Linked DNA regions of Homo sapiens. The protein of the gene in region 2 purifies or fractionates together with the protein of the main gene of each other region. This does not show direct contact. Each region holds a gene or a part of one and is shown on either strand. Other genes may lie near its edges.

Evidence for each region. Proteins that work in one complex are often made in the same cells at the same time.
Region 1: the proteins of KLRC2 (region 2) and GAS6 purify together in Homo sapiens (affinity purification with mass spectrometry; one large-scale study listed by BioGRID and IntAct). This does not show direct contact.

The regions. Positions count from the first base shown.
Region 1 is NC_000013.11:113,857,577-113,861,076, forward strand, and holds part of GAS6 (growth arrest-specific protein 6 precursor), read right to left. Parts: intron 1-3,500. UniProt on the Homo sapiens protein: Ligand for tyrosine-protein kinase receptors AXL, TYRO3 and MER whose signaling is implicated in cell growth and survival, cell adhesion and cell migration.
Region 2 is NC_000012.12:10,433,211-10,437,394, forward strand, and holds the start of KLRC2 (NKG2-C type II integral membrane protein), read right to left. Parts: upstream 2,801-4,184; 5' UTR 2,777-2,800; coding exon 2,590-2,776; intron 2,201-2,589; coding exon 2,102-2,200; intron 1,321-2,101; coding exon 1,276-1,320; intron 733-1,275; coding exon 581-732; intron 1-580. UniProt on the Homo sapiens protein: Immune activating receptor involved in self-nonself discrimination.

The DNA of each region.
Region 1 (3,500 bases), on a different chromosome or scaffold from region 2:
ACCTGGATGCCTGTCAATCGCTCTGGGGTAAAGCCATAACCTGGGAAGTGCTCAGCATGCCCCAGCTAGCAAGCTTAACGCCCCTTTACTCAGAATCTCAAGAAAGAAGCCATAAGCACTTGCTTCCTAAAAGAGTGTTTTGTTCCTAAATAACAAAGGGAGACGTTCAGCGTTTCTCAAAACGTCTTTAATTAGAGTTTTCCACAGATGTGAAGCTCTCCGGCTCGGGTGAGGGTGTCGTGTGCAGGGCCTGGCACTCGGCTGCCTCTGAGAAAGCCCCGGAGGAGCCTGGCACCAAGTGCCTGCAGACGCCCGGGTGAAAACAAGCATCTGCACAGGTGCGGGCACAGGAGAGGGCTGCGGAGCCAGCACGGAAGACGGCCCTCAGAGGAGGCCGGGCCGGGGTCCACCTGCAGGCCTCAGGATGGGCCCAGGAGGAAAGGCCTTGGCCACAGGGCTCCGGCCCCTCAGGCAGGGGGCTCTGGGAGTGGAGAGACCCTGGGGGTCTGAGGAAGCTGGGGCCACAGAGCCCCGTGACCTTGTGTCACTTTTTAGTGATCCTGCTGCAGCTGTCAGTGGTCTTCTGACCCCAAAGTTGTAGAAAGAGAAAAGTGTGTGAGAGGGTGCACATGTGTCTGTGTGTGTCTGCATGCATGTGGCTGGGCATCCATGTGTGCCTGTGTGTGTATATGTGTCTATTTATGTGACTGTGTGTACATGTGTGCATATTATGCATGTGTGTACATGTCTGTCAGTGTATGACTGTGTACGTATGTCTATGTGAATGTGTGCATGTGTGTGCATGTCTGTCAGTGTGTGTGACTGTGTGTTTACATATGTCTATGTGAATGTGTGCATGTGTACATGTCTGCTAGTATGTGCCTTTGTGTGTGCATGTCTGTGTGCCTATGTATGCATGTCTGTGTGTGACTATGTACATCTATGTGAATGTGTGCATGTCTGTGTACGTCTGCTAGTATGTGCCTTTGTGTGTGCATGTCTGTGTGTGACTGTGTACGTATGTGTACATGTCTGTGTGTGCCTATGTATGCATGTCTGTGTGTTTGTGACTGTATGTGTACATGTCTGTGTGTGCCTATGTATGCATGTCTGTGTGTGTGACTGTGTATGTACATCTATGTGAATGTGTGCATGTATGTGTACATGTCTGTTAGTATGTGTGTGCGTGTCATTATGCATGTGTGTACATGTCTGTGACTGTATGTATGTCTATGTGAATGTGTGCATGTATGTGTACATGTCTGTTAGTATGTGTGTCATTATGCATGTGTGTACATGACTATGTAAGTCTATGTGAATGTGTGCATGTATGTGTACATGTCTGTTAGTATGTGTGTGCGTGTCATGCATGTGTGTACATGTCTGTGTGACTGTATGTCTATATGAATGTGTGCATGTATGTATACATGTCTGTTAGTATGTGTGCCTTGTATGTGCATGTCTGGACAGTGTGTGACTGTGTGTACGTATGTCTATGTGAATGTGTGCATGTATGTGTGTGCATGTCTGTCAGTGTGTGGCTGTGTGCTTACATATGTCTATGTGAATGTGTGCATGTATGTGTACATGTCTGCTAGTATGTGCCTTTGTGTGTGCATGTCTGTGTGTGTGACTGTGTACGTATGTGTACATGTCTGTGTGTGCCTATGTATGCATGTCTGTGTGACTGTGTAGGTACATCTATGTGAATGTGTGCATGTATGTGTACATGTCTGTTAGTATGTGTGTGCATGTCATTATGCATGTGTACATGTCTGTGTGACTGTATGTCTATGTGAATGTGTGCATGTATGTATACATGTCTGTTAGTATGTGTGTGCCTTGTATGTGCATGTCTGGACAGTGTGTGACTGTGTGTACGTATGTCTATGTGAATGTGTGCATGTATGTGTACATGTCTGTTAGTATGTGTGTGTGCCTGTTTATGTGTGTGCATGTCTGTCAGTGTGTGTGTGTACGTATATCTATGTGAATGTGTGCATACGTATGTACATGTCTGTTAGTATGTGTGTGCCTGTGTGTGTGCATGTATATCTGTGTCTATGGGAACATATGTACATGTGTGCATGTGTCTAGGTAGGGGTGTGTGTGTCCCTGCACACCTGTATCCATGAGTCAGCACCTATCTGTGCTGGTGTCCATGTGTGAATGTGTGTGCATGTGTCTGTGTGTGGGAGTGTGCTGCAGCCTCTGTCAAGGCAGGGCAGGGGAGGTCTCAGCCTGGCCATCACCTTCCCCACCAGGCGCCCCCACATTGTACAGCCCTCCCCTCCAACAGGGACCTCCCTTTAGGCCATCCCAACATCTGGGCCTGTGTCCCAGCCAAGTGGCTGTTCCCAAGTGGGGACTCAGAGGGGTTTTCATTTCCATAAAGGGTACCCCTTCCCCAGCTGTTCCCAAAGAATCCACAAGGTCAGGGAAAAGGTGCTTGGAGGGCACATGCAGTTCAGGATGAGCCAGCAAGTTTGAAAACGGATGCACCAACATCCCATGCGGAGAATTCCTCACCACCAGCAGTGGGGAGAAGAGAGAGACTGGGACAGAGAGAGAAACACAGAGGGAGACAAAGAAAGAGATGGGGGAAGGGAAACCTGGCCTCGGAGCACAGGCCTGGCCACATGTCGTGCAGGTGCGGGTACAGGTGCAGGTTGCTAATCCAGGCCAACCCTCAGGGAAGGCCACCAGCCCTCGGTGAATATTGTGCTTTGTATCTCAGATAAAGCCAGGTGATGGGATCAGGAACCACAGCCTGGATGATTTTCCGGCAGGCAGGCCGGGGATCAAAGTGCACAAACAGGCTCCCAGGCAGGCACCGGAGGACCTGGGCAGTAGGGCTGGGCTGGGATAAGTCTCTAGTCTCGGATCATTTCTGGAATCAAGGGGTGATTATGGAGACCTCAGCAGGCCCTGGAACCTGATGGCCTTCGAGGATTTAGTAAAAAGTCACTGGGCCTGGGAAGCTTTAGCAGAGACACTGTGGGGAGTTACCCAGTCTTCTCTGAATTAGAAACTCGGGCAAGGAACCCAGCAGGGAGAGGCAAGGCCAGGGAGGGAGAACAACAATATAAAAAGGAAAACAAGATAAGGAGAAGGTCTGGGCGGTGGAGAGCAAGGAGGCATGTGGGGGTGGCCCAGCCTGGAGGAATGTCGGGGGAGGGGCACGGCTCCAGCAGAGAGGGCTGGGGAGGTGGGAGGAGTGTCCCTTCCAGCAGAACAGGGCTTGAAACCACAGGTGTGTGGGGAGGGCCAGAGCCTGGGAGGGGTGCTGGGCTTAGTATCCGCCTGCTGGAAGGTGGGGGTCTGCAGAGCAGGCACTTCCCTCACAACCAGGAAGCAGCCCCAGCTTGGGGCAGTGGGACACGCTTCAGGCAGGTGAGCAGGTGGCCAGGTGGGCACAGAGGTTAGCACACAAGTGAGCCTGGAGCCTGGGAGGGGTGCCGGGCTTAGTATCTGCCTGCTGGAAGGGCTGCACAGCGGGT
Region 2 (4,184 bases):
CATAGTACAGCAGTGAACAGTAACATACTACTGATAACTGCAATAATATGGAGGAATTGCACAAATATCAGATAGGATTGAAAAAGACATGAAATTCACACTGCTTGATTCCCTTTATATAAATAAATTCAAGAACAGGCAATCATTATTTATAATATTAAAAGTCAAGACTGCGTTTTGGAGAGGAGTCAGGATAAGTGATGAGGGCATACACAGGGGTGGAACTGCTAGAGCTGGAAACTTTTATTTCATGATCTGACTTGTATCACATGCATTCATTCACTTTGTGATCAATCTGCATGACCAGATGATATCATGCCCGATAAAATTAGATAGCAAAATTTATTGTGGATTCAAAGCACTTATAGAAGCATGGTTTTCCTTGAAAAACAAAAACTGAAAATAAATGTACATTAGCAGTATATAACTTTAAAAACATTATTAAGTCAATCAATTGAATATTACATACACTTGAAAATATATGAGATAAATATATGTACACACATATGGATGTTTTCTACAAATGTATTATTCACTGAAGGAAGCTTTTCATAAAATGTTTGAAACATTTACATCTTACCATTTCTTCTTCATTATCTATAGAAAGCAGACTGGAGTTCTTCGAAGTACAGGCCAGCAAACTCTCTTCCCAAGTTCTTCTTTCCTTACCAATGTAATAACAACTGTTGGAATATGTAATCCACTCCTCAGGACAATGGCCACAATGACGTGCTAATAAAGATATGAATTACTATCTAGACCAATATGAATTTTTAAAAATGAAAATTAGTTCACATATTTCAACAGTATAAACATATATGTGCTTAACATATTTACGCATCCTTACAGGCTTATAAATGTATATTTTTAATAACTGAGTCAGTCATACACACATGCACAGACAAGGGTTAGCCTCTCCTCCCTAATTGTGTTCCCATATAAAGCAAATGAACAAACAAAAATACACTCTACACATGTGTTGAACATCGCTGATACACAACTGCTTTTTTAGAATAGTAAAATTATTTATTTGGTATCATCTCACAGCAGTAGGAAACCTCTGTTAATTGGGAGAAAGAGGGTAGAATGATTTTAAGTGAGTATTTCTACTCACTGGAGAAAAGGAAATGCTGCCTCATAATCTTTCTTTATAAATATTTATGGCTGAATTTATGGCTTATTTTCTGCAAAAATGCCACTATTCTTTTACATGCCTTAAAACAGACACAAAATATAAATTGTACTAATATCAGAACATTGAAAATAAAAATGTACCTTTCTGCGTTCTTGTATTCGGGGAAAAATTGTTCTGCTCCAGGACTGTAATAGAAAAATTAAAATGATTTTTATAAAAACTGATATCTAGATAAACCATAACGAGTTTAGTTTCTTACTTTGAAACTTTGTGTGTTATTTAAAATGGGGAGAATCTTTAATAAAATTAACTTTTTCTATAAAAATATATAAAGTAATAGACCTTTGAAATAAACATTTTTAAAGACTTTAGCACAAACTTCACCATCTCTTGTAGTATTTGATGTAACCACTTTCAAAAATTAATTTGTTTTTCTAAATACTTTTCTTCTATAGCATGCCTTTGAATTATGAAATCAGAAAATATCTTTGTGTGTGTATGTATATACATATATATAGATTACACACAAAAAATAAACACATGTTCTCTACAATGATTTTGTTATTTATGTTGTGAAAAATTCAGAATAACCATATTACTTTTGGTTCCAAATTGTACTAATATCAGAACTTTGAAAATAAAAATGTACTTTTCTGGGTTCTTGTATTTGGGGAAGAATTGTTCTGCTCCAGGACTGTAACAGAAAAATTAAAATGATTTTTATAAAAAGTAATATTTAGATAAACCATAATGAGTTTAGTTTCTTACTTTGAAACTTTGTGTGTTATTTAAAATGGGGACAATCTTTAATAAAATTAACTTTTTCTATAAAAATAAATGAAGTAATAGATCTTTGAAAGAAACAGTAAAATAAGAGTTCTATTCTTCAACAGTATGAAATATTTTGAGGCACTTCCAAGCATTAAAGTAAAACGTTCCCTTCTAATCTTTCAAGAATATGCTTACAAGGAATAAGAACTATTGTTTTTAACACAGTGGCCATCAGGACAATGCAAATGATTCCTAGGACCTCGGCAGTGAGCTTCTCTGGAGGTGGCAGTAAACCTGCAGGGAGAGAAATAGAGGCACTGAGAGAGGGGAGATAGAGAGTTGATTAGGATTACATACTAGAGAATTACATACTAGAGAACCCACATGCACAGGGAAACATAATGATAAACTCTGGCCTCTAAATCTACATCTACTCTAGTAATCTTTCTCTCAGAATATACCATTTCATTTTCAGTAAATATAATGTTCCATGAGTGGACCGCAGATTACAGTTGAACAATGCCCGAATAAAATTAGTCTTCTGATTTCATATTAGAATTTTAGATCCCAATTATGAACTCCGATTCTCACAAGTGCAAAATATTCCCTAATCTTTCCTCACCCTTCTGCATTCAACTGCACATCCTAGAACAATAATATTGAAGATATATTTAATGTTTTACCTTGGCAGTCATATATTTTATCAATCCCTTGATGATTCAGGGAAGGATTTTGAAGATTTAATTCTACTTGGAATATTTCCTGTTCGGTTCCTGAAATGGAGCTTTTATTGCCTTTAGGTTTCCTTTGCTGCCGCTTTGGGTCCTGGGCCAGACTCACTTCTGAGAAGGTTCCTCTTTGTTTATTCATCTCTGCAGCTGTGTGATGTGAGGGACTGTGCTCTATGATAACTGCACTTAAGAAGCTATAAATGGTGTATATTTTGACAGGATCCCTGGTATAGGCAATGTGCATGTGTTGGGGCTGAGTAATAATGTTTACTTTGCTGTTAACCAATGTAAAATTCTGCTACTAATTTCCTAAAGCTTTAAACAAAAATCACACGATATAATTGGCAATTTTTTAGATGTATTCTGTATTTGACATAATATTACTAGTGGGAACAATAAAAACATTAAACTTATGAGAACTAGGAAGTTCATGAAAAATTGGTATTAAATTAAGGTTAGATTCTTCAAAAATGTTTAACACCAATAGACTGCATATGTCAACAATCAAAATACTGTATTTAGAAATACACAAATTTTATCATAGTTTTAAGAGTCATTGATGGTTAAGGATTGTGTGCCATAAGATAAAATAGTTCTGTCAGCATATAGAGTATCTTCTTATACTAAAATACATTGTTAGTGACTTACATTCATTTATTAAAAGGACCTGAGGTATTGTCAAATGATTTTTTTTCTAAATTAGGAAATCAGAAAAATCATTAAAATTTTAAAAATATATCTTGTAAAACATTACATTACTGTATGCATAAATATTATTGAAAACGTATTTTTAAATTGCTGCTTTTACACAAGAAATTGGTAATTGATTTAATGACTAAAATAGGAAAACTTAAAATGATAAATAAACGTGTGGGCCGTCTATGGAAGAATAGTGTCCAATCAAACTTTCAGAAAGCTCCTATGATTGTATAAGTCAGTGAGGGTTGCTTTGGTTGTATAAGTAATTGTAATAGTTCAGATAATGTAATTTAATAATCTAGTCAATGAGCTCTGTAGTCAGTGAGACTACAATTAATTCTAGCTTTGCAAGTTGTAATATGTGACCTGTACTAAATTACTTAGTGTCTACTAACCTAGTTTACTAATCTACATTGGGAAAAATAATTTATAAAGTATAATGTATGTAAAAAACTAAACACACAACCTGGCACATGTTACCACTGAATACATAATAGATATTTCAACTATTTTTAACACAATTGCCATTTTATTATTTCTGATTTGCATTAGAGTGTGTTAAAATAACTCATTAATTAGGCGTCTCATGTCAGTGTGGTACATCTTTTTTGCAATGTTTGGTTCAATTGTTTTAAGTCTTCCAATTGTTTATAATTAAGGTCAGATTTGCATTTTATGGAAATGATTTCATCCTTACTTTTATTAAAAATTAAAACTGCTTTCATGAAATCTAGGTGTGTGATTGAGAATTAATGTTTGACATTCACAATTTGATGTATCCATATTAAAAATTTATTTTTAAAGTTTGGTCTAAATATAATATACAAAATGTAATGGTTACAAAATCC